4 linked regions of the Homo sapiens genome follow. The protein of the gene in region 3 purifies or fractionates together with the protein of the main gene of each other region. This does not show direct contact. Each region holds a gene or a part of one and is shown on either strand. Other genes may lie near its edges.

What was found.
Region 1: the proteins of KCNA10 (region 3) and SLC12A9 purify together in Homo sapiens (affinity purification with mass spectrometry; 2 studies listed by BioGRID and IntAct, with this or other methods). This does not show direct contact.
Region 2: the proteins of KCNA10 (region 3) and CHSY1 purify together in Homo sapiens (affinity purification with mass spectrometry; 2 studies listed by BioGRID and IntAct, with this or other methods). This does not show direct contact.
Region 4: the proteins of KCNA10 (region 3) and KCNAB2 purify together in Homo sapiens (affinity purification with mass spectrometry; 2 studies listed by BioGRID and IntAct, with this or other methods). This does not show direct contact.

What each region holds. Positions count from the first base shown.
Region 1 is NC_000007.14:100,847,884-100,855,726, reverse strand, and holds the start of SLC12A9 (solute carrier family 12 member 9), read right to left. Parts: upstream 3,015-7,843; 5' UTR 2,892-3,014; exon of another isoform or gene 2,709-2,891; intron 1,572-2,708; 5' UTR 1,530-1,571; coding exon 1,349-1,529; intron 1,108-1,348; coding exon 973-1,107; intron 22-972; coding exon 1-21. UniProt on the Homo sapiens protein: May be an inhibitor of SLC12A1. Seems to correspond to a subunit of a multimeric transport system and thus, additional subunits may be required for its function. May play a role in lysosomal ion flux and osmoregulation.
Region 2 is NC_000015.10:101,249,028-101,255,936, reverse strand, and holds the start of CHSY1 (chondroitin sulfate synthase 1), read left to right. Parts: upstream 1-3,888; 5' UTR 3,889-4,480; coding exon 4,481-4,800; intron 4,801-6,909. UniProt on the Homo sapiens protein: Has both beta-1,3-glucuronic acid and beta-1,4-N-acetylgalactosamine transferase activity. Transfers glucuronic acid (GlcUA) from UDP-GlcUA and N-acetylgalactosamine (GalNAc) from UDP-GalNAc to the non-reducing end of the elongating chondroitin polymer.
Region 3 is NC_000001.11:110,516,696-110,523,576, reverse strand, and holds KCNA10 (potassium voltage-gated channel subfamily A member 10), read left to right. Parts: upstream 1-4,401; 5' UTR 4,402-4,789; coding exon 4,790-6,325; 3' UTR 6,326-6,360; downstream 6,361-6,881. UniProt on the Homo sapiens protein: Voltage-gated potassium ion channel that mediates K(+) permeability of excitable membranes.
Region 4 is NC_000001.11:6,041,416-6,048,896, reverse strand, and holds the start of KCNAB2 (voltage-gated potassium channel subunit beta-2), read right to left. Parts: upstream 3,010-7,481; 5' UTR 2,714-3,009; intron 1-2,713.

The sequences.
Region 1 (7,843 bases), on a different chromosome or scaffold from region 3:
CCAGTGTGCGGCTGATCATGACTGAAAGTGGAAGCAGGGGTGAGCATTAAGGGAAAAGACTGAAATGGACGTGAGGAAGTTGCCATAGCTCCAAGCACTGAACCCAAGTGCAGCCAGGCCCCAGCCATGTGGCTTTGCCCAAGTCACTCATATCCTCTGAGTGCCAGTTTCTGCATCTGTAAAACAATCACTGCCTAACAGATGAGATTGTTGGACTAGAAATTGGCATCAACGTGCAGGGCAATGTTGATCTCCTTCACTATACCAGCCTGCCTGCTGCACATTTATTAAAACTTGCCCTGCCAGGCCAGGCACAGTGGCTGACGCCTGTAATCCTAGCATTTTGGGAGGCTGAGGCAGGAGGATCACTTGAGGCCAGGAATTCAAGACCAGCCTGGGAAACATAGCAAGATTCCATCTCTACAAATATTTAAAAATTAAACAGGGGTGGTGGTACATGCCTATAGTGCTGGCTACTCAGGAGGCTGAGATAGGAGGATCACTTGAGCCCAGGAAGTCGAGATCACAGTGAGCTATGATGGCGCCACTGCACTGCAGCCTGGGAGTCAGAGTCTTGCTCTGTTGCCCAGGTTGGAGTGCAGTGATGCGATCTTGGCACGCTGCAACCTCCACCTCCCAGGTTCAAGCGATTCTCGTGCCTCAGCCTCCCGAGTAGCTGGAATCACAGGCGGGTGCCATCATGCCCAGCTAATTTTTGTAATTTTAGTGGAGTCGGGGTTTCACTATGTTGGCCAGGCTGGTCTTGAACTCCTGGCCTCAAGTGATCCACCCACCTCAGCCTCCCAAAGTGCTGGGATTACAGATGTGAGCCACCGCACCCAGCCTAAAAAAATTTTAAGAATGAAAAAAACACTTGTCTTGCCCCTGAGCCAACAAAGGTAATGGCCCCTTCCACACCCTCCCTAGCAGGCAGAACAGGCCAGACCCCAGTCCATCGATGTTGGAGGATACAGTAGGCTCCGCCCCCCTGCACGGCTCCATTGGTGGCGATGGCACAGACAGAGAGGACGGTGAGTGCCAGGATGAAGTAGGCAACCAGCAGCATGGCCAGGGCCTGCAGTAGCCCAGCATGACCCACCACGAACCCTGAGGCAGGAGCAGCAAATCAGGTCACAGGGGACTCACACCCCATATCCCCCACCCCCTGGTTCTGCAGAGCTCCAGGGTGGAGCTAAATGCAAGCCCACAGAGAGCCCCTCCCCAAACCCTTCAGCCAACCGCTTCTCTTGGGTCCCCTTCCTAATCTTATCCCAGTCCCATCTCCACCCCTCCCCATCATGTCCTCCCATACTATAGTCAGTCCACACCCGCCCCAGGACCCACTCACCAATCCTCAGAAAAACAACTATGCTGAACATGGACAGGACAGTGGGCACCACCACACCCAGGAAGGTGGACAGCTTCCGGGCAGACGCCCCTCCAGGACCCCCGGCCCCATTGGCAGGGAGGGCAACCCCCTCCTCCCCCAGGAGCCGGTAGGCCAGCAGAGGTGAGCTCTCGCTGGCCATGGCTGAGCACAGGTAGAGGAAGCCACAAATGGGTTAGGTGACCTGCAAAGGAGATTATGTTGCATCAAAAGCTCCCCCACAGAGCTCGCCCACCCCCAAAGACCACTAATCAAACACCCTGAAGCCTCCCCAAAAGACAGAGCTGCTCTCTACTAAAAATACAAAAATTGGCCAGGCTCGGTGGTTCATGCCTGTAATCCCAGCACTTTGGGAGGACGAGGCAGGTGGATCACCTGAGGTCAGGAGTTCGAGACCACCCTGGTCAACATGGTGAAACCCCGTCTCTACTAAAAATACAAAAAGTAGCTGGGCATGGTGGCTCATGCCTGTAGTCCCAGCTACTTGGGAGGCTGAGGCAGGAGAATCCCTTGAACCCAGGAGGCAGAGGTTGCAGTGAGCCGACATCACACCACTGCACTCCAGCCTGGGTGACAGAGTGAGACTCCGTCTCACAAGAAAAAAAAAAAAATTAGCCAAGCGTGAAGGTGCATGCCTGTAATCACAGCTACTTGGGAGGCTGAGACACGAGAATCGCTTGAGTCCTGGAGGCGTAGGGCTGCAGCGAGCCGAGATCATGCCACTGCACTCCAGCCTGGGTGACAGAGCGAGACCCTGTGTCAATAAAAAAAAAAAAAGAGACAACCGCAAGGAAACAGGAACGCACCCACACCCTGCTTACCGGCAACTCAAAAAAGTCCGTGGGCTGCAAATGGTACCAGCCACTGCCCCACAAAAAAGTGGTACCCCAAACCTGTCAGCAGGGGTTTCAAGGCCCCTCCCGGCTCCTGGGGGCCACCCCTTCCCTTATGTTCCTGAGACTAGGGATGGCACCGGTTCTGGAAAGGGGCAAAGGTTCTCTGACGGCACAGGCTTCTCCAGCCTCTCCTTCCTTAACTAGCAATGCAAGAGGAACCAAATCTCCCAAAAGGGAAGTAAGTTACGGGCAGGAGAGCCTTCCCCATCCTCTCCTTCGGTGTCCTGAGCTGCCCCTACCAAGCCCCCCAATGCAATCACCGCACCCACAGGTAACAAGAAACTTCCAACTCTTTCAAAACCCCACCCTCCGTCAATCCTCTCCCTCAACCCATCTCAAACCCCCTCCTCCTCGCCTTAGCCTCCCCGATTCCTCCCATCCACACGAGGCACCCCTCCCCACAAACTCTACCAACCCAAACACACCCTAGCGAAACAGAAACACAGACCGGCTCCCACCGAGCGACACAAGGTCCCCGGGTCCTCCTCCTCCCCCAATCCGGGCTCCTGCCCCTTTGCGCCCGTTGGGGTGCAAGGGAGCCAAGATATCCTTCTCCCCGGCCAGGTGCACCCCACAGCTCGGGGGCCGCGAGGCGCTCACTCACCCACCCGCAGGACGCAGCGCTCGGGGGCGATCCCCGCGAGCCGGGGGGCTCCGCTCGGGCGGAGAGTGCACGGGGGCCGGAAAAGACAGCTGCGGCTACCGGGATGCCAGGCCTGGAGCCTGTCCCCACCCCCACCAGCACGCGCGCGCTATTGGTCCCCGTCCTCGGCCCCGCCCCATGGCGCGCCCGGAGAAGCCCGACCCTCTCTGCTCTTCCCCAGCCTGCGCTGCTCCAGCTCCACGTGCGCCCGGGGATGCAATGCAGCCCTGCAGACAAGCGTCTCCGGCAGGACGTGGGCCGCGGGTCTCGGAGCCTCCTTCACTTAGGTACAAACAATCGTCGCCGCAGGGGCCGGACCCCAGTCCGAGCTCCGAGGTGCGGTGAGCAGCCACCCCACTAAAGGGGGCGTGTGAGGATGGCGGAAAGCGGCAGGGAGGTGGGCGGGGCTGCAACACCTGGGCCAGGTGCGTCACGGGAAATCCGGCCCACTTCGTTCAGGGACTTCTGGAGTTCTAGTCCTCCAACCTCTCAAAACCCTAGAACCTCCACCGGGTCCCAGCCTCGCCCCTCACCCGCTGCGGGGATCCTCCCTTCGCGCCCGATCCAGCTGCGCTCTTCGCTTCCGCCACCGGAGGGAGCCATTGGCCGCCGATCTGGGCCCAGGGTCGCTTTGCACCGTCTGATGCCCGCTTTCTTGCCTCCCTGCAGTGTTCTCACTTCCAGCAGAAATCCTAGAGCCTATGAACTCTACTGAGAGCTGAGACTCCTTCTTCACTCTTTACAGATCCCATGAACAGCAGTACCACCTGCCAACGCGTCCTCATATGTAAAATGGGCATAAACTCGAACCTCCCTCCTAAGGCTGTGAGTTCAGTGAGCATTTAATGGGCACTTTAGAACAACGCCTAAAGGTTTGATAAATTATCCCTTGCAAATAGCACTGCATTAAATTAGCCACTCTGTGAGGTAGGTACCGCTATTTCAATTTTTCAGATTAGGAAATTGGAGCTTGGAAAGTTTCAGATACATTTCCTTTTTTTTTTTTTTTTTTTTTTGATCCAGGAACTATTACACAGGCTGGAGTGCAGTGGCGCGATCTCGTGTCACTACAACCTCTGCATTTCCGGCTCAAGCATCCTCCTGCCTCAGCCTCCGCAGTGCCTGGAACTACACAGGCACACACCACGCCTGGCTAATTTTTAAATATTTTGTAGAGACCGGGTTTCGCCATGTTGCCCAGGCCTCTCTGGAACTCCTGAACTCAAGCATGCGCCTGCAGTCCCAGCTACTTAGGAGGCTGAGGCAGGAGGATCGCTTGAACCTGGGAGGCAGAGGTTGCAGTGAGCTGAGATCGCACCACTGCACTCCAGCCAGGGCAACAGAACGAGACTCTGTCTCAAAAAAAAAAAAAAAACTTTTTCAGGGTCAGTTAGTTATAAGCACTCCCTTGGCATACCCTGGCCTGTCCGTCACTGAACTCTGCTTCCATAAATCTCAACCTCCACCTTACCTTGTTAGTCTGTGGTTTTGCCTTGGACCTTGTCTTCATCAATGACTGCAGCCCCTCCTCTTCAGTTCACCTCTTCTACTGCGCTTATTAAAGAAAAAAATCTGACTCTTGTTAAAACAGTAAGTCAGACTTTATTCAGGACTATTTTGATTGGCACCAAGAAGGTGGCAAGGAGCTGGGTGCAGTGGGTCACGCCTGTAATCTCAGGACTTTGGAAGGCTGAGGCAGGAGGATCACTTGAGCCCAAGAGCTCCAGACCAGCCTGGGCAATAAAGTGGGACCTCATCTCTACAAAATTTTTTTTAAAAATTGGGCCAGGCACGGTGGCTCACGCCTGTAATCCCAGCACTTTGGGAGGCCGAGGTGGGTGGATCACGAGGTCAGGAGATTGTGACCATCCTGGCCAACATGGTGATACCCCATCTCTACTAAAAATACAAAAATTAGTTGGGCGTGGTGGCACGCACCTGTAATCCCAGCTACTTGGGAGGCTGAGGCAGGAGAATAGCTTGAACACGGGAGGCGGAGGTTGTGGTGAGCTGAGATCTCGCCATTACACTCCAGCCTGGGCAACAAGAGCAAAACTCCATCTCAAAAAAAAAAAAAAGAAGAAGAAGAAGAAAAGAAAATTAACCAGGCATGGTGGTGCACGCCTGTTGTCTCAGCTACTCAGGAGGCTGAAACTGGAAGATCCCATGAGCCAAGGAGGTTGAGTGAGCTATGATAGTGCCAGTGCACTCCAGCCTGGGTGACAGAGTGAGACCCTGTCTCAAACAACAAAAAAGACTGTGGCAAGGTGTAGTAGCTTGCACCTGTAATCCCAGTACTTTGGGAGGCTGAGGCAGAAGGGTCATTTGAGGCCAGGAGTTCAAGACCAGCCTGGGCAACACAGAAGACACTGTCTCTAATTTTTTTTTAAAATCAGCTGGGCATGGTGGCCCATACCTGTAGTCCCAGCTACTCAGGAGGCTGAGGTGGGAGGATGGAGGCTGTGGTGAGCTATGATCCTATGGCTGCACACCCATCTGGGTGATAGAGCAAGACCTTATCTCAATAAAAAAAAAAAAAAAGAAAGAAAGAAAAGGAAGGAAGGAATGAAGGAAGGAAAGAAGGGAGGGAGGGAGGGAAGGAAAGAAGGGAGGGAGGGAAAAGAAGGAGGCTGGGCATTGTGGCTCACGCCTGTAATCCCAGCACTTTGGGAGGCCAAGGCAGGCAGATCACTTAAGGTCAGGAGTTCAAGACCAGCCTGGCCAAAATGGGGAAACCCTGTCTCTACTAAAAATACAAAAATTAGCCGGGCGTGGTGGCAGGCAACCGTAGTCCCAGCCACTCGGGAGGCTGACGTGGGAGAATCACTTGAACCTGGGATGCAGAGGTTGCAGTGAGCCAAGATCACACCATTGTACTCCAGCCTGGGTGACAGAGCGAGACTCTGACTCAAAAAAAAAAAAGGGAAGGGAAGATGTTGGGGAGAGAGAGAAGGGGCACAGTAGAAAGAGGGTAGGATGGATGAACTCGGGATCCAGTGAGGTAGAGAACTGTTGGGCTCAGGCCTGACAGAGACTTTCTCCTTGACTAAATTTTAGTCTTCTCTGGGTCCTCTTTTTTTTTTTTTAGACAGAGTCTCCGTCTGTTGCCCAAGGCTGTAGGGCAGTGGCGCGATCTCAGCTCACTGCACCCTCCGCATCCCAGGTTCAACTGATTCTCCTGCCTCAGCCTTGGAGTAGCTGGGATGACAGGTGTCTGCCACCATGCCTGGCTAGTTTTTGTATTTTTAGCAGAGACAGGGTTTCACCATGTTCTCCAGGCTGGTCTCAAACTGCTGCCCTCAGTTGATCCACCCACCTCAGCCTCCCAAAGTGCTGGGATTACAGGTGTGAGCCACCGCACCCGCCCTGGGTCCTCTTCTTGACTGGGTCTCAATGTTGTGTTCCACTCCCTCCACATCCCACTGCCTTGCCAGGCCTGCCTAGCCCAGTTTAGAGTGAATCTGGGAGGTTGAGGGTGCAGTGAGCTGTGATCGCACCACTGCACTCCAACCTGGTTGACAGAGCAAGACCCCACTTAAAAAAGACATTTAAGCTAGGTAAGAAGGGAAGTGAAGGCTGGGCACGGTGGCTCACACCTGTAATCCCAGCACTTTGGGAGGCCGAAGCAGGAGGATCACTTGAGGTCAGGAGTTCAAGACCAGCCTGGCCATCATGGTGAAACCCCATCTCTACTAAAAATACAAAAATTAGCTGGGCCTGGTGGTACACGCCTGTAATTCCAGCTACTCGGGAGGTTCAGGCACTCCCACCTAGGCGACAGAGCAAGAGTCCATCTCAAAAAAAAAAAAACAAAAAACTAACCAAACAAAAAAACTCTCCTTATATTAGTTGTCTATCCTAGCTCTTTCTTTCTTTCTTTCTTTCTTTCTTTTCTTTCTTTCTTTCCTTTTTTTTGAGATGGAGTCTAGCTCTGTCACCCAGGCTGGAGTGCAGTGGCACGATCTCGGCTCACTGCAAGCTCTGCCTCCCAGGTTGAAGCGATTCTCCTGCCTCAGCCTCCCAAGTAGCTGGGACTACAGGCTCCCGCCACCACGCACGGCTAATTTTTTGTATTTTTAGTGGAGACGGGGTTTCACCGTGTTAGCCAGAATGGTCTCGATCTCCTGACCTCGTGATCCGCCCGCCTTGGCCTCCCAAAGTGCTGGAATTACAGGCGTGAACCACTGCGCCCAACCTCTTTTCAACATTTATACCCAGTCCCTTCACGATCTCATCCAGTCTCATAGTTCTATTTTTTCTGTATTTATTTATTATTTATTTATTTATTTATTTATTTATTTTTGAGACTTGGTCTCACTCTGTCGCCTAGGCTGGAGTACAGTGGCACCATCATAGCTCACAGCAACCTCTATCTCCCAGGCTCAAGCAATCCTCCTGCCTCAGCCTCCTGAGTAGCTATAGGCACATGCACCCATGCCTGGCTAATTTTTTATATTTTGTAGAGACAGGTTCTCACTATGTTGCCCAGGCTGGTCTTGAACTGTTGGGCTCAAGTAATCTTCCCACCTCAGCCTCCCAAAATGCTGGGATTACAGACATGAGCCACCGCACCCGGCCCAATCTGTTTTAATACCATCTATATGATAGTGCCTCCAAGGGTGTACCTCTAGCCCAGACCTCTACTCTGAACTTCAGGCTGTATAGCCAACAATCTACTACCATCTTTTTCTATTTTTTTTTTTTTTTTTTTTTTTTTGAGATGGAGTCACTCTGTCGCCCAGGCTGCAGTGCAGTGGTGAGAGCTCTGCTCACTGCAACTTCCACCTCCCGGGTTCAAGCGATTCTCCTGCCTCCGCCTCTCAAGTAGCTGGGATTACAGGCACGTGCCACCATGCCTGGCTCATTTTTGTATTTTTAGTAGTGATGGGGTTTCGCCATGTTGGCCAGGCTGGTCTT
Region 2 (6,909 bases), on a different chromosome or scaffold from region 3:
AGCGTTTTCTAGTTAGGAAGATCACATCCCATCTGGCTGGTCCACATGGTTATACTGAACTTAAATCTCTTTTGTGTCTCTATCGTACACATGAAAGCTCACACACACACACACACACACACACACACACACAGTGTGAGAAGCACTCACACTGACTCAGCGTCTGATGGAAACGGTGTACACAGCTGATAAGCACTGAAGGACTTTGCAGAACACCCAGGGCTGGAATAGGCCAGTGTGTGAAACCAGAACGTGAGCCCTGCTCACTTGCCCTTTCCTGCATCTGACTGGAAATGCTACAAACAGAAGGAAATAGTGAGCGAAATTAACAACCTCATGAGGATCTTGCTTGTAAGTTTAATAGCAGCATTCATAATGAAGCAGTGTTTTATTGGGTTAACAGAGGTTAAGTGGCAATATTAGTAAAGTGGTCATTATAGATTTTCTTCTTTGCAGGCAGTGAACAGAACCTTCTGAAAGGATGGATGATTATAACTCCTCAGCATTCACTGTTTCTTAAAACAGGCCTTTCTGAAAGTTTTTTTTCTTTAATAAAAATTACCACTTTTTCCAAGGACCCCTGTTTGAGGCGTGAGTGGAGAGGCTTCATCTTTAAAGAAGCTCTAACAGGGAACTCTGTCGGTCGTTTGAGGCTTGCTGCCAACAAACAATTGAGGTATTTACCAAGGGTTTCCAAGAAATTGCTGCAAATTATATGAAATGTTATACTGGTAACAGACGTTCAATGTATTAGCAACAGAAAAGAAATGTGAAGTGTGTGGGAACAAAGTTGCCATCTGTGAGAAAATGCTCAGTAAGGTAGGTGGCGATGAACTTTAATAATGTGTCATAAAGAGTCACACTCATGAACACAGAAGGGAAGTTAAGTGATCTGGGATTTTTGAACACATTTCTGAATACTGGTCTGGAATCACTATGGAGGACCGTTTAACGTGATCCAGCAGAAAGACTCATTTGGAGACAGAGCCGGACTCCCGGAGCCCCTCCAGGTGGAACTCACTCCACGCAGAGCTCAGACTCGGTCCCACACTCCTGATCCCTGATCCATCACAGCCCACCTCTTGGGCCACTCCTGTGCCATTGGGACTTTCATGGAATAACTACAGTTAAGGGCTTCCTTACAAGTGTTCCTGGTAACAGTTAATACCTCCCCTTCTTTTATGATGAGAAAAATGGTCAATGATTCCCTCAACAGAGAAGGCCAGTAGCACAGTGAAATCAAGAAGCCCGGAACATGAAAAGTCTTTCCTCAGCTCCCTGCAGTGAAATCCCTATAAATGCGAATCACCCTGCCTACTCCTTACCTTTAAAAATTACTTAGGGTGAGGGGGCTTTAGGATGAGGACAGCCTTGGCCTCCAGGGGGCTGTGGGGAAGGACGCATGTGTGTGCATTGGGGGCAGATGTTCCAGACCCTCGTTGTCCTCCCTGGCTCCTTGCTGGTATTGACTAGTGGGGCTGGGCATGGGACAGGCCTTCATACTGGGGGTACCAGTCCTGTCCAGCTGTTTGGGTCTCTGGCTGTCACTGAAGTTCTTGATTCCAGGTATTTGCTACTGGCTGTGAAATCCCCACTTAGGATAGCCTTGTCTCCTGAGCCAGGCCCCTTACTGGGACACTTTTGGATTCTTCCCCAGGAGAACTGCCTCAGCTCAACAATCCAGCTGCTCCTTCCAGATGTGCTAGAGCTTGCCCTCCTGCTCCTAGGCTGCATGCCGGAATTGGTCCCTGCCCCTGGCAGACTTCTACAGGACCTCAGTTTCTCTCTTCTCCTTCCAACCCTCTCTTGGCCTGGCATATCCCTCTTCTCCCAGAGGGAGTTCCCGTATGTCTTACTCTCCTTCTCCAGGGAATTGTAAGCCCTCAGGCTCAGCCTTTACAAAGAAAAGGGTATCCTTTCTACATTACGAAAGACCCCCATTAAGCCTGCAGGTGAGACAGGTGAGACTGTTAACCTAGGAACTGAGGGACAACTAGGAACCAGGATATTGAGGAGGACAAAATATTTGGCATCCTCAGAATATTATTCCCATCAGATATTTATATACTTTTTTTTTTTTTTTCCTTGAGACGGAGTTTCGCTGTTGTCGCCCAGGCTGCAGTGCAATGCAATGGCACGATCTCGGCTCACAGCAACCTCCACCTCCCGGGTTCAAGCGATTCTCCTGCCTCAGCCTCCCGAGTAGCTGGGATTACAGGCATGCACCACCACCCCCGGCTAATTTTGTATTTTTAGTAGAGTCGGGGTTTCTCCATGTTGGTCAGGTTGGTCTCGAACTCCTGACCTCAGGCGATCCGCCCGCCTCAGCCTCCCAGAGTGCTGGGTTTACAGGCGTGAGCCACCGCGCCCGGCCAGCTTTTCACTGGACACTAGTTTCGAAGAAAACTAGGTAAGTCTAAAGCAGGTTAGAAAATACTGAAATCGTTGAATATGCTACAAAATTGAACATCTGAATCTGGCCAGATTCGTACTTCATGTAAATCACTGTGAATGATGGGGCTGCTGAATTTGGGGGATCTGGTGACTCCTCGGCATTTGTGGTTTATGGTCTTAGTGGAAACCTTTTTCGATGGTTTTCGAGCCTGTAATTCATGGTTGTATGTTCTGTATTTTTCCCAAGACCACTGCTGGAATCCTGTATTCACTGCATAATGAGTATTTTATTTTTAGATGTGGATCACCCCTTAGGGAGGGGCTCTGTGGGAAGGTAGGTAATGAACTATTTTTAATATAAATCACAAGTGTCAAAGAAAGTGGTAATATCCAAAGAATAAACAAGAGTGACCACCATTCAGGTGCCGAGAAGGTATCTGAAGCTCCCACAGGCATTTTAAACTGTGTGATAGTATTTCAACCATTTGGTCAACAATGAAGAAAGATCCAAGGATTGCCCCAGGCATGTGTTTATTTGATTCAATGCAGGTAACTTCTCAGGCCCAGGGAAACACTTTGCCCTTCAAAAGTTTCATTAGAAAACCCCAATATACTGGTGACTAAGTAACAAGACTGAAACTCTACACAAACTTTCGTTGTATGGAGACCTCCGCTTTTGCTGCCTTAGCTGAAGTATTGCAGAGGAAATGTATAAAACTTAAAATCCAGAGTAGAGGATCTGGGACCCAAAATCCGTCTTTAGAAATCCACGGCACTTTTACAGACGGACTATATTAAAGTAGGGACAAAGTCCCAGGCTGGGGGTACTAGCCGGCTATCTGCCCACACAGTATGTAAATGAAAGTAGGGTTTACCATCCAGGGCATTAACTTCATTTTCCTTGTCTTCGAGATCCATTAAATGCTAGTACTGTATGAGAAGCGTGGACCTTAAGTATTAAAGATGGCTTTTTCTTCTTCTTCTTCTTATTTAGCGTAGAAACTAGCAACAGGGAACAAGGTAACTGAATTCACGGTCCACTCGCAGGCGCGCACGTCCCCAGGGCTCCGGGACGGCTGTTCCCTGCGTGCGGCCGCGGGACTGCGGACAAAGCTGCAGTGTGGTCGGGAGCGCGGGGCCGGGAGCGCGGGGCCGGCCCGGCGGCAGGAAGGGCGTGGCCGTGGGGTGCAGCGAGGACGGCCCGTGCGGGAGGAACGTGCGCAGCGTGGAGTCTGGGGGCCGAGAAGCCCCCACTGCAAGGCTGGCTCCCGAGATTCGCGCCCGGGCGCCGCGGTGCGGGAAGCGGCCGTCCTCGCGGGGACGCCCTTGCGCCGGGTGCTAGGTGCGGATCACGGGCAGCTCCGGCCCCGCGGGCGCCGGGCGGGGGCCCACGCCCCCTCCGCCCGCCAGCTCCAGTCGCAGACCGCGCGGGCGGGGCGCCCGAGAGGGCTTTTTTTTTTTTTGGTCAAACTTCGGCCACGTGAACCGCCCCTCATTCACTTTTGCGCCAATCGCGCGGCGCGGACGGATCCCGAGAGGGGCCACGGCTCGCCGCCGGCGGGGCCACTTCATAACGCGCCGTGCGTGACGTGAGGGGCTCCTGTTGCAATGGCGAGCTAAGCCGGAGGATGTGCAGCTGCGGCGGCGGCGCCGGCTACGAAGAGGACGGGGACAGGCGCCGTGCGAACCGAGCCCAGCCAGCCGGAGGACGCGGGCAGGGCGGGACGGGAGCCCGGACTCGTCTGCCGCCGCCGTCGTCGCCGTCGTGCCGGCCCCGCGTCCCCGCGCGCGAGCGGGAGGAGCCGCCGCCACCTCGCGCCCGAGCCGCCGCTAGCGCGCGCCGGGCATGGTCCCCTCTTAAAGGCGCAGGCCGCGGCGGCGGGGGCGGGCGTGCGGAACAAAGCGCCGGCGCGGGGCCTGCGGGCGGCTCGGGGGCCGCGATGGGCGCGGCGGGCCCGCGGCGGCGGCGGCGCTGCCCGGGCCGGGCCTCGCGGCGCTAGGGCGGGCTGGCCTCCGCGGGCGGGGGCAGCGGGCTGAGGGCGCGCGGAGCCTGCGGCGGCGGCCCGGCGGGCGGAGCGGCGCGGGCATGGCCGCGCGCGGCCGGCGCGCCTGGCTCAGCGTGCTGCTCGGGCTCGTCCTGGGCTTCGTGCTGGCCTCGCGGCTCGTCCTGCCCCGGGCTTCCGAGCTGAAGCGAGCGGGCCCACGGCGCCGCGCCAGCCCCGAGGGCTGCCGGTCCGGGCAGGCGGCGGCTTCCCAGGCCGGCGGGGCGCGCGGCGATGCGCGCGGGGCGCAGCTCTGGCCGCCCGGCTCGGACCCAGATGGCGGCCCGCGCGACAGGAACTTTCTCTTCGTGGGAGTCATGACCGCCCAGAAATACCTGCAGACTCGGGCCGTGGCCGCCTACAGGTGAGCCCCTGCTCCCCGGGCACCGCCTCCTGCGTCCGGCATCCCGGCGGCCGGCATCCCGGGTGCTCTCCTGGCTCTCGCCTCCGCCCGCTTCCTAGGCCCTTCTTGGGCTTCCGGCGGGATCGGGTTGCCTCTCGGGAGACGCCGGGCCGAGGGAGAAAAGATCAGAGGCGGGATGGTGAGCGCGGCGCTCAGGAACATGGCCTTTGGGGTCAGATGGACTAGTGTGGCCTCGCTGGGTGTACCTCTCACCCTGATGAAGGCACTTTAGCCTTTGCAAATCGAAGCTTCTCGTTAGAAGGGCCCGACAGATCGGGTCTCCCTCATAATGTTGGAAAACTCATAGCACAGTACCTGATAGTGGAGGCAGTTGGGGCTGATACTGGATTCCCTAAAATGTGCACCTTTGTCCTTGCAAAGCTGGAGCCCGTGTACGTTAATCTAGTTCTAGAACCTTTCCACATCATACTCTCACATTTCGCAGTTGGAGGCACTCCTATAAATGAAAGAGAATGCCCGCAGCATATTGGACCACACCAGTCTGTTGAGTACAGAGAGAGAGAACCTTGGGGAAAAGCAGTTCTTGGCCCTTGGTAGATTCAGTGGAAAACTGCATTCTGGTGTTAATTAGTTCAGCTTGGTGGTGTATGCATGTTATCCAGTAACTGGGCTCTAGTTGGCCAAATGAGTCATAAAAGCAGCTGGAATTGTGTTCAGGTTTAACAAAGGGATTAGCCAATGTAGTCTCTAGAAGGGAGATGATTTTGGAATGGCTGGCATGGTTAGAATCAGATTTGTATTGGAGTGAATTTGAAGTTGGAGAGGGTTGTAGACTCGATAAAGGGATTTGATGGAAACCCTATATGTGTGAAGTATAGAGACACTTACTGTATGGATAAAGTTTGGGTCTTATCCAGCCACAGAGCAAACCAATGTGGGGAATGGTTTTAGAGCATCAGTTGTCTGGTAATGAAATTTCAGAGCAGCCAGTGCTGAGCCAGGCTAAGCTGGTTGCTGTTTGTTCTTATAACCAATACCTTTACACTTCAGTTTTTAAATGCAGTCTTGGTCAGATTTTTCAGGCACTAGATGTTGTGAGGGGAAAAGCATATATGGTCTCCCTTGCCTTTAAGGGAGAAAGTAAAGGACTGAGAAAGAAGGTGAAAGTGGTCTTCAGTGACTGCCCCTTGAATGGCTTGATCCCCATTCCTGCACATTTCCATTAGGGTCCTGCTTAAGTCCAGAACCCACATTCCGCCAGGAAGGGTCCTGAGTGGCTTGAAAAGCTTAGAATGCAGGTATTGTAAATACAGACTAATGCAGGCGGGGCGCCGTGGCTCACGCCTGTAATTCTAGCACTTTGGGAGGCCGAGGCGGGCGGATCGCCTGAGGTCAGGAGTTCGACACCAGCCTGACCAATATGGTGAAACCCCGTCTCTACTCAAGAGTACAAAAATTAGCCGGGTGTGGTGGCGTGCACCTGTAGTCCCAGCCACTCAGGAGGCTGAGGCAGGAGAATCGCTTGAACCCAGGAGGCGGAGGTTGCAATGAGCCAAGATCATGCCACTGCACTCCAGCCTGGGCTACAGAGTGAGACTCCATCTCAAAAAAAAAAAAAAAAAAAAATTCTATCTATCGATCGATAGATAGAGATACATAGACTAGTGCAGTGATTTGGGAACCAGCCTATCAGGATCTCTCCCAGATCTACCTTGCATTACCTGAGGTTTTATGGGATTTTTTTTTTTTTTTTGACCAGAGAAACAGCCGTATCGGAAATCGAGGATGAGCCATATAGATTATTTACAGCATGGTTTTGAAAGTAAATCCGCATGACTCTAGTGTGGTGATAGACCATGTGAAATCACAGTTTTGGGGACAGTTAACAAACCAGTTAGTACAAACAGTAAATTAGGTAACTCCCTTATCTCCCCCATGCCCCCTGAACCAAATACATTTTCATGGTTACGGTATCAATATATTCAAATCAGTGGGGGGCCTAATGCACCAGCAATACTCAGAAAATGTAATGCAGGCCGGGCGCGGTGGCTCACGCCTGTCATCCCAGCACTTTGGGAGGCCGAGGCGGGCGGATCATGAGGTCAGGAG
Region 3 (6,881 bases):
TGAAGTATGCAGGTGGCAGGACCTGCCCACATGGTGGCCTGGAGGGAGGAAAGTACAAGTATGTTCAGCAAGGAAAAGAGATCTGTTTCAGCCAGGTGCACTGTCTCAGCACTGTGCCAGGCAAGCACAGAGATTACATGTAGAATCGGACGTTATGGAAGACTCTTGAACGTCATGATCATTTCAGCTATGGGTGAGAGTTCAGCCTGGTGTAATGGCAATTCCATCAAGGCCCTGGATCACTGGGCAGATCAAAAGATCTAAGACTCAAAGGGTGTCACGCAGAGCAGACTCCAGGCCCCTGCCTGTTGCAATGGGAGCCAGTCCCCAAATAACCCCAGCTCTGAAGTTACAGCTTCATCAAGTGACTCACCCCACCCAAGGCGTCCGTCTCCTTCCAGAGTGTGGGACAGAGTGGGGGCAGCCCAGACTGTGAGTCCAAGGGGCAGAAACAACTCTGATCTTGACTCTTATGAAATACTAATTATAGTACAAAAGCCTATTGAAAGAGTGAAACCCTTCCAGAGAAGCAGATATTTTCCAGTGCAAATAGAGGCTTCTCTCCCACCACTAAACAGACAAAATGCCCAGCACCAAGCTGAGAGAGCCAGCCTGCCATGGCCCGGGGCGTCCTTGACATTGTGCACATCTCTGAGAGAGGGTAAAGTGCCCACAGCCTGATCTGCAGGGATACAGCACTGCTGGGTGGTCTCTGGGCACCAAGACTGACCCTGGGCTCCAGGGTACATTCATTCTTTCTAAACAGTTTTCTGAGCTCTTGCAACATGAGCAGACATGGTGCTGGGCACCGTAGTGAGCACTATGCAAGAGTAATCCCCTCTTTCCACATGACCCATGCAGTTTACAGAGCATCATACCATCCCCTTTGGTCCTTGCCGAAATCTTGAGGAATCATTGGCAAACCATGCACTTTTATTTCTTTTGTTTGTGTGATTGCCTTTTTTTTTTACAGATTTGTTGAAATACAATGACGCACACTAAACTTAGAGTGTGCTACTTGATAAGTTTTGACTAGTGTATAGACTTGTGAAGCCATCACAAAATCAAGATAAGAAGCATAAACTTCACCCCTACAATCTTGAGCCCCTTTGTAACTCTGCCCTCACCCTCTCCATCCTTATCCCCAGGCAATTGCTGATCTGCTTCCTGTCATTCTAGATTAGTTTGCATTTTCTAGAATTTCATATAAATAGAATTATTCTATATGTGTATCCTTTTTATCTAGCTCCTTTGACTCTGCATATTTTCTTATTACAGATGAAAAAATGGAGTCTGGATGAGGTAATGCAAGCAGTCAGTAATCACAGAACTGTAGAGGCAATGCAGGTGTCCTGGCCCTGAGCCCATGCACCAACCGCCACCCCTCATTCATTCATCACTCATTCATTCACTCACTCACCAGAGATGAATTGCGCACATAGGTGGGCTAGCCAAGTGGTGCATAAGACAGACATGTTCCCTGCCTTCATGAGCTTACAACTCTTCATTCATTCATCCATTCACCTACTTAGCAAGCAGGTGCTTAACAAATAATCACTCTACATCCACAGGATACACTGTTTGAAACTGGCACTGCCCCACTACCTCCAACACCACCCTGACCCTCATCAGCCACCCTCCTATATGCAACTTTGAGCTGGACACTGGGGTGACGCAGGTGGGATTGTAGGGGAATCCTGTCCTCCAAGACCAAGCAGGCTGATAGGAAAAGCTCTGCAAAACACAGTCATGCATCCTGAAAACTTACAAGAGAGCTGAAGAGTGAAGGCTGATCCCCTGGAAGCTGGTGCTCCAAACTGAGGACAAAAGTGAGCATCTACACAAGCAGGCTAGCAGCACAGGGAGACAGAGGGCTCTCTCAGACACTGGCCAGGGCAGGCTCCTGGGACAAGGTAGGATCTGAATAGTTCCCAGATGGGCAGGGAGGAATAGATGATGGAGGAAGGGAGGGGGAGTAAAAAGCATATGAGAAGCAAGAGCAAAACAAGGATGAAGGCATGGAGTCAGGACTGGGCTGAGCAGAAGGGGAGAATAGTGAGCTGAGAATTCCTCCTGCAGTTCTTTACGTGAAACATGCTTTCTACAAGCATGTTATATTGGGTTTATGTGTGGAGCAGAGGGGAGGAAAACGTAAAGGGAGATTTTTGTCATTTTACAATTTACAATTACAATTTACAAAGTGCTTTCACTGTTACTACCTTATTTAGTTCTCAGTATAATCTTTGAGATGGGAATTACTATTATTTTTACCCATTTTATAGATTAGAAAGCTGAGTCATAAAATCCAATGATTTGCTTTAAAATATACACTCCTAAGTGGTGGGGCAGAGCCTCACACCAGGTCCTTGTCCTCAAGACGGTTCTCTTTTCTCTTTGTTTTAATGATTAACATTTGCTACTAATGGGGCAGGTGGAGCCGCCTGCACAGCACACTTCTGTAGACCACGGAATATGCTGTTTGACCTTGGCACTGTCTGCCACCTCCTCACCATCAGACCCTCATCAAACACCCTCCTACCTGTCACTTGACCTGGGGGTGGAAGTGACAAAGAGGAACCTAGGAGGCAGGGAGAAGGGAAATGGCCTGGCTCCCAAAAAAGGAAGTTAATTATTTGGCCAAAGAAGCTCTCCCTAATCCCCAAATGCTTTCTGCTGCTGGCCTCCAGAGAAGTTCCTGATAAGGGTCACTCTAGCCTTGGCTAGAACCATGGAAGTGGTTCCCAAACCTTGCCCAAAGCTCACTGATGGTACTCATTCCTCTCAGAAAGCGGGACTGATTCACACCTGGAAGATAATCATCAGGGAGCACCATCTGCGGTCCAAGACCCCAAAGGAGAAAATGGTGCTCCGAAGACATGAGATCAACACAGAGCTGGAGTCCCCCACCCACAGCCATCCAGCTGCCAAGCAGTTCAGGACAAGGCCCCCAAATCATCATGCGAATTACTGTGAAGCTACATTTCTCCAGGGCTTTACCATGTACAGAGCCAGGATTTGAACTCGGGTGGACTGATTCTATTCTCAGATTCCATCCTGCCTCCCAGCCATCCTACTGCTCACCGAGCCTTGCAGAGCAGGCTGGCACCTGGCATGCTTGGCAGTGGGTACATCCTTCCTCATTCCACAACTGAGGAAGCAGCAGCTCCGTGAAATTAGGCCGTTTGCAATGGCCACATACTCCTGAGAGGTAGAATGGGTACTCTACCAGTGCTGACCAACCAGACTTGAGCTCATCATTCAACACATGGCACCTGAACTGAGAAAAGGGGTCATGGGATGGAAAGAGCTCTGGACCCCTGACAATTCTGTGGCCCTAGCCTACAGCTCCCCACAAGGCTCAGCTCCTATATAGGGACTCCATGGTCTAGTGGGAAAGGCCCTGGGCCAGAAGGCCATGGCCAGGTTTAGGTCAGGACTCTGTAGCACTAGTTATGTGACCTTAGGAAGTCACTTTGTCCCTGTGACTTGGTTTCCGCATCTGCAAAACAGAGATAACATCTAACCTCACGTGATTATTGTCATCTAGTGAGATAAGTGAATGTGGAATCACTTTGAAAAGACTACAACACTACACTGCAGGATAGCCTTGTCGCCTGTAAAGGAAACCTCTCCAAGGCTGTGACCACTACAGATTTTGCCTGAGGTTAAGTCCCTTACTTCTCTCCCACTCCCACCCCCAGCCTGCCTGGGTTCAGTGTTCTTAAATTGAAACTGAAGCTAGAATGAACCTGAGGAAAGAAATATTAGTCTATGTGTATAGATGTCCAAGCCCACTGGGCATGATTTCCTAACCCCACCTCCAGCGTGCGCGCGCACACACACACACACACACACACATATACACACACACACACAGACACACACAATTATTTACTTCCTTCCCACCTAAAATGATTTCTCAAAATGAAATTACTTCCTATGGACACCTTGGACTCAGGCCAAAAAAAATTCCAATTGCTGGTAGTTTCTAAAGTGCTTGTTATGTGGGAAAGTTGACAAAAAACAATAGCTATAATATAGTGATCTTTCTTTCCACCAAGCATTCCATACGTGTTATCTCATTTGAGGTACCTTCAAAACAACTCTAGGAGTTATTTCCAGGTGAGGGGTCATTTAGAGGACATTGTCGATTGGCCAACCCAGCGTCTTGTTTTTCCTTCCCTAAAGAATCCCCATTGGGTTCATAGATCTGGTTCCACCCTTCACCACTTGGTCCAGAAGCAGGGGTGGAAGTGATGCAAAATGGTTGAATTCTAGATATATTTTGAAGACATGACCAAAAGGATGTGTGAGGGACTGGCTGTTGGTGTGAAAGAGAGGCATTACGAATGAGATTGGGCATGGAGACGTGTTTGGTGAGACAGAAGGCTTCATGCAAATACAAGATCATGCTTTTTATTATTAAGGAATGTTAACTTCCTCTTTTAGTATGGCCCCTCTGCCATCACATATGGAGACCATCCTTTGCTGGGGAGAATCTCCCCTTCTTTGCCAGGATCCTTTTTTTGCAATTTCTCCTAGTTATTAGTTTATGCAAACTCAGGGGTACAAAATGATTTTAAGGGAAGCATGCTGCCAAAATAACCATGACGTTCCTTCCCAAGCTACAAATAAGTCATTGATTAGCCCATTGGTGTACCTTACCTCAATAAACAAGGGCCAGTTGTATTCTGCCCTGGATCTTGTATAATGAACTTCTTCTTCTCCATAGCTCACAGCAGGCAGTGAAGGCTGAGGATCTTCATGCTTCTTCCCTGGCTCCCCTAGAATGGATGTGTGTGGCTGGAAAGAAATGGAGGTTGCGCTGGTCAATTTTGATAATTCAGATGAAATCCAAGAAGAGCCAGGCTATGCCACAGACTTCGACTCAACCAGCCCAAAAGGCCGGCCTGGGGGCAGCTCCTTCTCCAACGGGAAGATCCTCATCAGCGAAAGCACCAACCATGAGACGGCCTTCTCCAAGCTTCCGGGAGACTATGCTGACCCCCCAGGGCCTGAGCCAGTGGTCCTAAATGAAGGAAACCAGCGGGTGATCATCAACATTGCTGGGCTGAGATTTGAGACCCAGCTCAGAACCCTTAGTCAGTTCCCAGAGACTCTCCTGGGAGACCGGGAAAAAAGGATGCAGTTCTTTGACTCCATGAGAAATGAGTATTTCTTTGATCGGAACCGGCCCAGTTTTGATGGAATCCTATATTATTACCAATCTGGTGGGAAAATTCGGCGCCCAGCCAATGTTCCCATTGATATCTTTGCTGATGAAATCTCCTTCTATGAGCTGGGTAGTGAGGCCATGGACCAGTTCCGGGAGGATGAAGGCTTCATCAAAGACCCTGAAACACTGCTACCCACCAATGACATCCACCGTCAGTTCTGGCTCCTCTTTGAGTACCCTGAAAGTTCCAGCGCTGCCCGTGCTGTGGCCGTGGTCTCGGTGTTGGTTGTGGTCATCTCCATCACCATCTTCTGCCTGGAGACACTGCCAGAGTTCCGGGAGGATAGGGAGCTAAAGGTGGTCAGAGACCCCAATCTCAACATGAGCAAGACAGTCCTCTCCCAGACCATGTTCACCGACCCTTTCTTCATGGTGGAGTCTACCTGCATCGTGTGGTTCACCTTCGAGCTGGTGCTCCGGTTCGTGGTCTGCCCCAGCAAGACTGACTTCTTCAGGAACATCATGAACATCATTGACATCATCTCCATTATCCCCTACTTTGCAACTCTCATCACAGAGCTAGTCCAGGAGACAGAGCCGAGTGCCCAACAGAACATGTCCCTGGCCATCCTGAGGATCATCCGCCTGGTGAGGGTCTTCCGCATCTTCAAGCTCTCGCGCCACTCCAAGGGGCTGCAGATCCTCGGGCAAACACTGAAGGCGTCCATGCGGGAGTTGGGGTTGCTCATCTTCTTTCTCTTCATTGGAGTCATCCTCTTCTCCAGTGCAGTCTACTTTGCTGAGGTGGATGAGCCAGAGTCCCATTTCTCTAGCATTCCTGATGGCTTCTGGTGGGCAGTGGTCACCATGACAACTGTAGGCTATGGGGACATGTGCCCGACCACCCCAGGGGGGAAGATTGTGGGCACTCTGTGTGCCATTGCAGGGGTCCTCACCATTGCCCTCCCTGTGCCTGTCATTGTCTCCAACTTCAATTACTTCTACCACCGGGAGACTGAGAATGAAGAAAAGCAGAACATCCCAGGAGAAATTGAAAGAATCCTCAACAGTGTAGGCTCAAGAATGGGCAGCACAGACTCTCTTAATAAGACCAATGGTGGCTGTTCCACAGAGAAGTCTAGGAAATGATCAGTCCAGGGCTTCTTGGGTCCATCCTGTCTCTCTTCTCTCTTCTCTCTCTCTCTCTCTCGCTTTCTCCCCTCCTCTCTCTCTTCCTTCTGCCTTCCCTTCCTCCCTTCATTCCTTCCTCTTTCCCTCTCCCTTCTCTCATTTCATCTTTCCAAAGATCAAAATGTATCTTTTGTGATCAATAACTATCTTTGACTACAAGCTATTTTAATAAGCCCATACTTCTACTGTATTTTCTAAACTGTTTCTTTTCAATACATTATAGAAAGATTTGGATCTCTTTTCCTATGAAGGGATAGTTCAGGTCCCCAGACCAGAAATACTGGTATCACCCGGGAGGATGAAAATGCAGAATCTAGGCCTACTCTGACCTACTGAATCAGAATCTGCAGTTTAACAAGATCCCAAGTGATTCGTTTGCATATTAAAGATTTAAAAGCACTGGTTTTGGTCTTCCTACGAGGAAGCATATGAAAAGACCAAGGGTTGCTGTGAGCAAAGAGGAAGAGCTCAGAGTTATTCAATTACAATAATAATAATACCTTGTACTTGTGTA
Region 4 (7,481 bases), about 100 Mb from region 3:
ACAGACAGCAGCACCAGCTTCCCTTCCCTGCCTACTGGCCGGCCACTCCCTTCCCTCCATGCGCGTGGCAGGCAGCTGCTTCTGAGGTGGCCATGTGGCTAGCTGCCAGTCCGGTGTGGGGCAAATGGGGGCCAACCCTCACTTCCCTGAGGTCTGTGTTTAGAAAGAAGGCCAGCTGGGCAGGCTGTAGCCCCAGGGCTCTTTCTGAAAGGCAGGACCAGCCTCAGACACGCAAGTTCCCTGCCTGGCCCGACCAGGCTGAGATCAATAGCCATTAGCTTTCAAGACATTACTCACAAAAAGCAATCCGGGTCTGGTTTGGCTCTAGAAATATAGCCAAGGCCCCGGGGCTGGAGGACGGGGTGGCTGAGTGCCCAGCTTCTGGACAGGGGCAGCTCTGCTTGTCACCTGCTCATGGTGTGGCCCAGGCAGGCACCTTGACCGCTCCCGGCCTCAGCCTCCACATCTGTGAGGTAGGCTGGGCAGAGGCCTGTTGTACCAGGCTGCTGTGGGCTGCATGAGATGAGGCTTTGGACAACTGGGTGGGAGTTGGTGACGCAGCCAGAAGACAGTCTGTTGGGGGGCGTGGGATAAGACACCAATTATGATAAATGCTGTGGAAAGAAAAATCCACCACCAGGGGCCAGCAGGCAGGGCGGGAAGGAACTTGTGACCACAGGTTTGAGTGAGAGGAGTGAGCCACACAGACACCAAATCTCCCTAGAAAATGCTTAAGGGAAGAGAACACAGATGTGAATAATCGCCCCCTTCACAACAAGATGGTGGAAGGCTGAGTTTGGGGATGTGAGTGGGAGAGGGGAGAGAGGGCAGGACAGAATGGGTTTTGTGGCCAGGATTTAGAGGGCGTCCCTCCCTGTGGGGGCCCGCTTGCAATCTTTCCTTAGAGCTCATGTTGCAGCCCTGGGAGCAGACCTGCAGGTGGGAGCCCTGCGGCACGGAGGGAGCCCAGAGCCTCTTGCTACGAGCTTGTCCCCATGGTGCCAGGGCAGGGCTTGGGCCAGGGAACTTGCGGGCACAGAAATGGCAGCCTTTGGCATGGGGTGGTGGGGTGAGGAGCAGGGCTGGTGCCATGAGGAGCCCATGGCCGCTGGACTCCCCTGAAGGTTGGGTCCAGGAGGGCAAGGACTCTTCTGCCTGCTGCCACTGCCCCCTGACCAGTGCCCACGGGAGTGTCCCGTGCACAGAGGAGGGGCTCAGATATTTGTAGAACAGTAACCAAGGCCCAGGCTCCAAAAGGCCAACCAGGGCTATACCTGGGCATTTCCTGGCAGTGCCAGGCAGCTGTTGGTGGGGGCGGGGCTGGCTTCCTACCTCAGACCCAGCAGCTCTTTGCAGGTCACCCTCTCTTGTGTGGGGGGGACTCCCATGCCAGGACTCTGTACAGCGGGGGCTCCCTGTGGTCCTGAAGGCTCATGACTCTGGGAGGGCTGCCCCAGGGGAAGAAGGATAGGTACAGGCAGAAGGCAAAGAGGCTCTGCCCGTTACCAGCGGTGCCTGGGGACAGAGGACACCTCTGGACTCCCTCACACTGGGGCTCTATTCTGGGCTTTTGCCGAGACTCTAGCAGCGTCAGGTCCTTGGACGAAGGGCCCCCCGGTAAGACACTGCAGGGAGGAGAGAGTGGCCCCACTGCCGGGCTCCTGCCTCAGGGTCCCCACTTCTCCTGTGCTCAAGAGCACAGTGACCCCTGACTTCCAATTCAAAATATCCCAAATCCCGGCCGCTTTCCAGAGTGAGGGTCTCTGAGCCCTGACACTCCCTCACCACCCTGGTACCAAGAAAAACGAGCCCCTCCTCAATAGCCATTGCTAATTACGTGGAACCCACAAGTTCTTTCCTGGGCTGGGCCTGCCTGGTGCAAATCTATTCCTGTAGATCAGGGGCCCAGGGGAATTCACGTGAATTAACACCGTGACATGGAAAAATGCAAGGAAGATGTTAACCTCATTAAGTCAGTAGGAATCACTACCTCACCCCAGACTCCTCTACCTGGAATTTCTGAATTGTTCTGTTTACTGAAAGCCAACAAAGCATACAACCTGAGATTGAGAAGGAACCCTGAGCATCTCTTCTGAATGGTGACACCTGTCCAGAGAGCAGAGAGCCCAGCCAGAGTTCTCCAAAGCGGAAATGGAAGGGGAGCTGCTACCATTCCGGGGTGCGGCTCTACAAGACACGGCATTGCTTCAGTGCAAACACAGAATGATTTTCGCTCAAGGACAATCAGCAAACTGAGGCCCAAACAAGCAGCCCCTGGCTCCCTCAGCACGTGCTTCCTGCACAGACATTTCAGACAAGACCAAACCTCCCTGACAGCGCTCTGGGCAAAACTGGAAAATGCTGAATCTTAATCAATGGTGAACACAGCGAGGTACGAGCTAGACGCCCGTGTCTCCGGCAGATGGGAAAACAGTCAGCCTTGGGCAGGTCTGGGCTGTGAGCAGACTCAAGCGAGAGGTGCTGCCCGGCTGAAACCTGCCGCCCACCACCCCATCCATCACGGTCATTCCAAGTTTACCTCAGGCTGGCTCTTTTTTAAGGTCTTCTGCTTTGCAAAAACACGGAGGGTCTAATTCCGGATCAGACAAAACCACCCCAAAATATGGTCTCCTCTGTTATTTTTCATTCCCGCGGATGCGTGCCCCCAAGCGGCATCTCCACTAGGAAGGTAGCGGCTGAAGGGAGGACTCACCTGCCTTCGTGGGGGCGTCTGCTCGTTAAAAAGGCCACAGTCTGGTTTATTAGGGATCACCAGACACTCTAAGGATCTGGCACAGCGGCTTTTTCATTAGGGAGTGTCACTGCAGGACGTCAGAAGCAATTGGTGAATGAGATGAGTCCCACCAGAGTCGAGTTTTGAGGCAGCGAGTCCATTAGTTCTATTAGGGCGTTTTCATCTCAGTGAAAGAGGCTGAATTATTCACGAGTGCCTCTTCCCCTAAAAGCTCGGGAAGTGCAGTTCCGTGCTGCAACCTGGCAAGGCTGACTCCCGGTGCGTGGGGTTGGGGTGCAGCCCAAGGTGAGGGGGAGGTCCTGCCCGTCCCTCAGGCCTACCCTTGCTGCCTCCACCATCCCCGCGTGCCAGAAACACAAACCTTTGGACCCACAGGTCGAAAGGGGCAGGCCTTGCTCTTTGGTATCTGAGTGCGGGACACAGAGCCTGTGGCTTCCGCATACCACTCAACTCTGAACTGTGTCTGCAGCAGGGGAGCTGGGGGCCCCGTCGTATGGGGCCACCACCCACAGCCAAGGGGGTCTGGAGAGGCCTCTGCTCAGCACACGCGCATGCTCCTCCTGTCCTCTGGGGATACACCCGAGATGGGTATATCTGATACTACCGGTAGCTATAAATGGCAGGAAGGCCCCAGAACCTGCTATTTGGACTCCACACTGCCACTCACTCCAGGCAGGGACACAGGAGCCCTTCTCCACGGCACATGTCCTGACCTGGGGTTTGGGAAATGCTTTGAGACTAGGCCAAACAAGGCTGAGCTCTGGGATGAGGCTAAGTGCTGAGCCCCAACCCCAGGGTCATGACCCCCAGGGTCACTGCGTGTCACAGGATGCCAGCAAAGTCCCAGCGTGACATCATCTTCCGGCTGAGAAAGCGCGCCAGTGAATGTGGGATTTTGAATGGAGGCAGAACCGTCCCCCCATGATGAATGAGCAAACAGTGGTAGCTGCCATGGGGGAAGGTGGGGGACAGGAAATCAGTGCCCCAGTCGCAGTGTGGAAGGTAAATGAAGTGGGAGGCTGGGAGAGCACGTAGAGTCTGGAGGTGCCTGGCTGCGGGTGACTAGCTGCGAAGGCCTTGGCAATTGAAATGGTTTGTCCCCAAAGGCCCAAGCCCACTCTGTCAGATCCCCACATGTCGCCCTGGTCGGGGGGCCTGCGCCTCACTACTGGGTGGTAGCTGCAGCCTAACATGCTCCGAATGAGGCCCTCTCCTTCCCTGGGTCCACTGCTCCTCTCTGTCCCTTTCTGTCTCAGCACCTGCCCATCAGTGGCCAAGCCCTGTGGACGTGGCTTCTGACGTCCTTTTTTCAGGCCCTGCACCCCTTCATTCTCTCTCTGTGCAGTTCCTGGAGCTCAGCCGTCCTGCACCTTTCCTGGGCACTGTCTGGTCTCCTTGCATTAGCCTCTCTCTTCCCTGTCTTACTCCCTGCTACCAGGCTTCCTTCCTAGAGCAGATCTCTGACCCCTGCCCTGCTCAAACACCATAGATGGCTCCCCAGTGCCCTCTGAGTGCATCTGTGCCCCATCGCTAGGCATTCGAGGCCCCCCACCAACATCCACCTCTACAGCCAGCCTCTCTTTATTCTCCATCATGTCCCTGATGGCCCAGGCTGGGTAACTGTCACTTCCTGTTCTCTGTGCACACCTCTGAGCTGTGGCTCAGGCTGTTGTATCTACTGGAATATGCTTCCCAGCCTCTGCGTTGAATCCTGCCCAGCCTTCAAGGACCAGATCCAAGCCCCTGCTGCCTTCTCCGTGAAGTCTTCTTGGCTCTCAGCTGGCTGTGGCCCCTCCTTCCTTGGACCCCAAATGCTCTTTGGGCTTCTCCTGTGACGTGCTCTGCCTTCTGGAGATCATCAGGGCTATTTGAGACCTGGGGTACATGGAAGTATTGCTCCCAATCCTTCACCCCTCTCTGTACCCATGCCCTTTGCCATGTGACTTTATAGCTCCTCCCACTGGTGGGGGCAATATATTTCCAGCCCCTTGACTGTGGGCTGGTTCCTGAGACTTACTTTGGCCAAAAGCACGTGAGCAGAGGTGACAGCGCTCTGACCCCAACCATAGGCCGTAAGAGACCCTGCATGTTTCTGCTTTTCCTCTGGTACTTTTGCCATGGGAAGGACATGCCTGGGGTAGGCCCCAGTTAAGCATGGGAAGATGGAGGACATGGGGATCCAACTTGCAGCTTGGAGACAAACCCAGCCAAGCCAGCTTAGACGAGCTGCCTGGTCAACCCGCAGACACGGGAGCAAGGAAGAGATGCTGATTGCTGCGTGGCACTGAGTTTTGGAGTTGTTTGTTATGCAGCACTTGGTGGACAGCTGATTGGCACAGTGTCCTATGCCAATTCCTTGCCTGGGAGCTGCATGGGGGCAGGGCACATGCCTTGAACGCCTCTGCCCTGTGAGAGGGCCAGGCCTAAGTAACTGAAAGAACCATCCAATAGCCATGTTTAGTGGTATGCTTGGTGTGATGAGGGTGCCCTACTAGGAGTGGCCCCCAGCCTGTTAACAAACAAAGACCCTAGCCCTTAGAGGTCATCTCCAGAGCCCCCACAAGAGACACCCAAGTGACCCCCTGGAGATCCAACGGGTAGGATGGCCAGAGCCTGTGGGCACCAGAATTGGGGCTGAGAGCCTAGAGGGTAAGCTTCAGAGCTTCCCTTGGGGCCAGGAAGGCCACCTGGAAATGAAGGTTCTTAAGCACAGGGATCCCGGCGGGGGGGACAACATGTTGAGCCTGTGGGGTTTTGAGGGCCTTGAGTGGGCTGGAAGGCTCTCACTTGGTCACTGGATAATTTACTTGGCCCCTCCTAGGGGCAGGCCCTTGGAGCTGGATGGTCTGTACCTGTGGGCAGCCCTTTTGAGCTGGCAGGTCTGCACCTGGGATTTTCCTGCCTGCTCATCAGACCTCACCCCTTCCCTTCTGAGGACTGAGGCTGCTCCCGGCTCTCTGAGGATGCAGTTCAGGTACATGTTTTGTTTCACTGATGAAATCCCCTGGGATGAGCGGCATATGTTTGTTAGGATCTGTTATACCATGTGTACATACATCACAATACAAACATTTCATCCAGGGAAAGCATTTGCAAGCCGGAGTTCAGATTTAACTATCTTAAGCAAAATCTTATCTACCAAAATTTCAGTAGGATCTAAGAGTTGGCCATGTCTTCAGAGCTCCCTGTAAGGAGCAGGACCTCCGAGGAGGCACTGAAGGCGTGGCACAGATCACTCTGAGCATCTAGGTCCACGGTCCCCATCAGAGGTGCTATGGCTGGCAAACGGGGGGGGGGGTGGGGAGTGGGGGCGCGGGGAGAGAAAAGCTACATGGAAATACATTGCCACCTCCATGACCACTGCCTGGCACATTGGCAACGATCCCCAAAGCACTGTTACCAGATGTCCGGGTCCGAATAGAGAGACCTCCCGGCCTGACCGCCAAGATGCAGCAATGCATACCAGGGACCTGCTGCCAGAAGCCGTGCCAATTCCCCAAACAGTCCCAAGGCATGGGGAGGCTGCTGCCCATGGGCTCCAGGCAGCCCTGACATTTTACTTCCTAGGGTTGGAGGCTGCACCAAGAACATGCATCCCCTGCCTTACAGGTGAGGGAGAGGCAGCCCAGAGAGAGGAACGGGTCTCCCCAAGAGCACCCTGCAGGGCCCTAAGCCTGGCATCTTGATGTCACATCCTGCTGGGGCACAGTCTCTCGCCAGGTGCCCGGTTTGTTAATTCACCAACAGAAAAACATATCAGAAAGATGTCACTGATCCACGTCGTATCAGTACTGCACACCCCCAAGCAGGCATTAACCTTCAATGAGCCTGAGGAGCTCTGTGAGTTCCAGATCAGGTCAAACCCACAGGCAAAGGGGGAACGGATGGGCTCGCCACGTCCTGTACTCTGATAATGGAAGCAGGGCAAGCTGGTGACCACAGGAAGACATCTCCCTCACTGCCTGATGAGTGAAGCTTTAACGGTAGATTTGGCTGAGAGCTTGGCAGTCATCAAAAGCCCATTTGCTCAAATCAAAGCAAACTTCTGGCAGACCAACACATACAATTAACCTGACTTCACATTTTCCATCAGGACATTGCACAGCATCCTGTGGGTAGGCACAGAGGGTGATGAGCAGAGCCTGGGGGTCTCGGGGGCTTTGGCTTCAGAGAATACACCAGCACACCCTGCTCGGCAAGGGTGCAGTCCTCCCACCCGCTCCCTGGCCTTCGGCTCGCTGGGTTTTAGGGAGAATGAAGACTCATTACCTGTAAAACTGGAGCTGTCTTTTGGGACTCCCATACCGAGTACTTCGGACAGCAATGGAGAAAAGAGAAAAAGGAGAAAGGGAGAGAAGAGAGAGAGTCCACAGTTGGCATCAACCCCAGCAGGTGCAGGTCAGAAAGAACCACCAATGTCCCATGCCCCCGGGCCCCCACCAGTCGCCTGCTCAGGGCAGTCTCTGAGGAAGCGCAGCCGGTGCCAAGTGCTCTGCAGCAGCGCCACCCGGTGGCCACGGGGCAGAGACCCGGAGCCAGTTTCCTGGACACCAAGGGCTCCTTCCATGCCAGGCCCTGTTTTCCGTGGTGAACCTCCGAGTGAGGGTTGGTTTGGATTGAATGTGCTTCAGGACTTGCTTTGCAATATGCTTGTGGGCAATGGCTGAAAACCCTCCAACCCAGACGTGCAGAGCACCCGCGTGCTGGCAAACCCGCACCTGCCCGC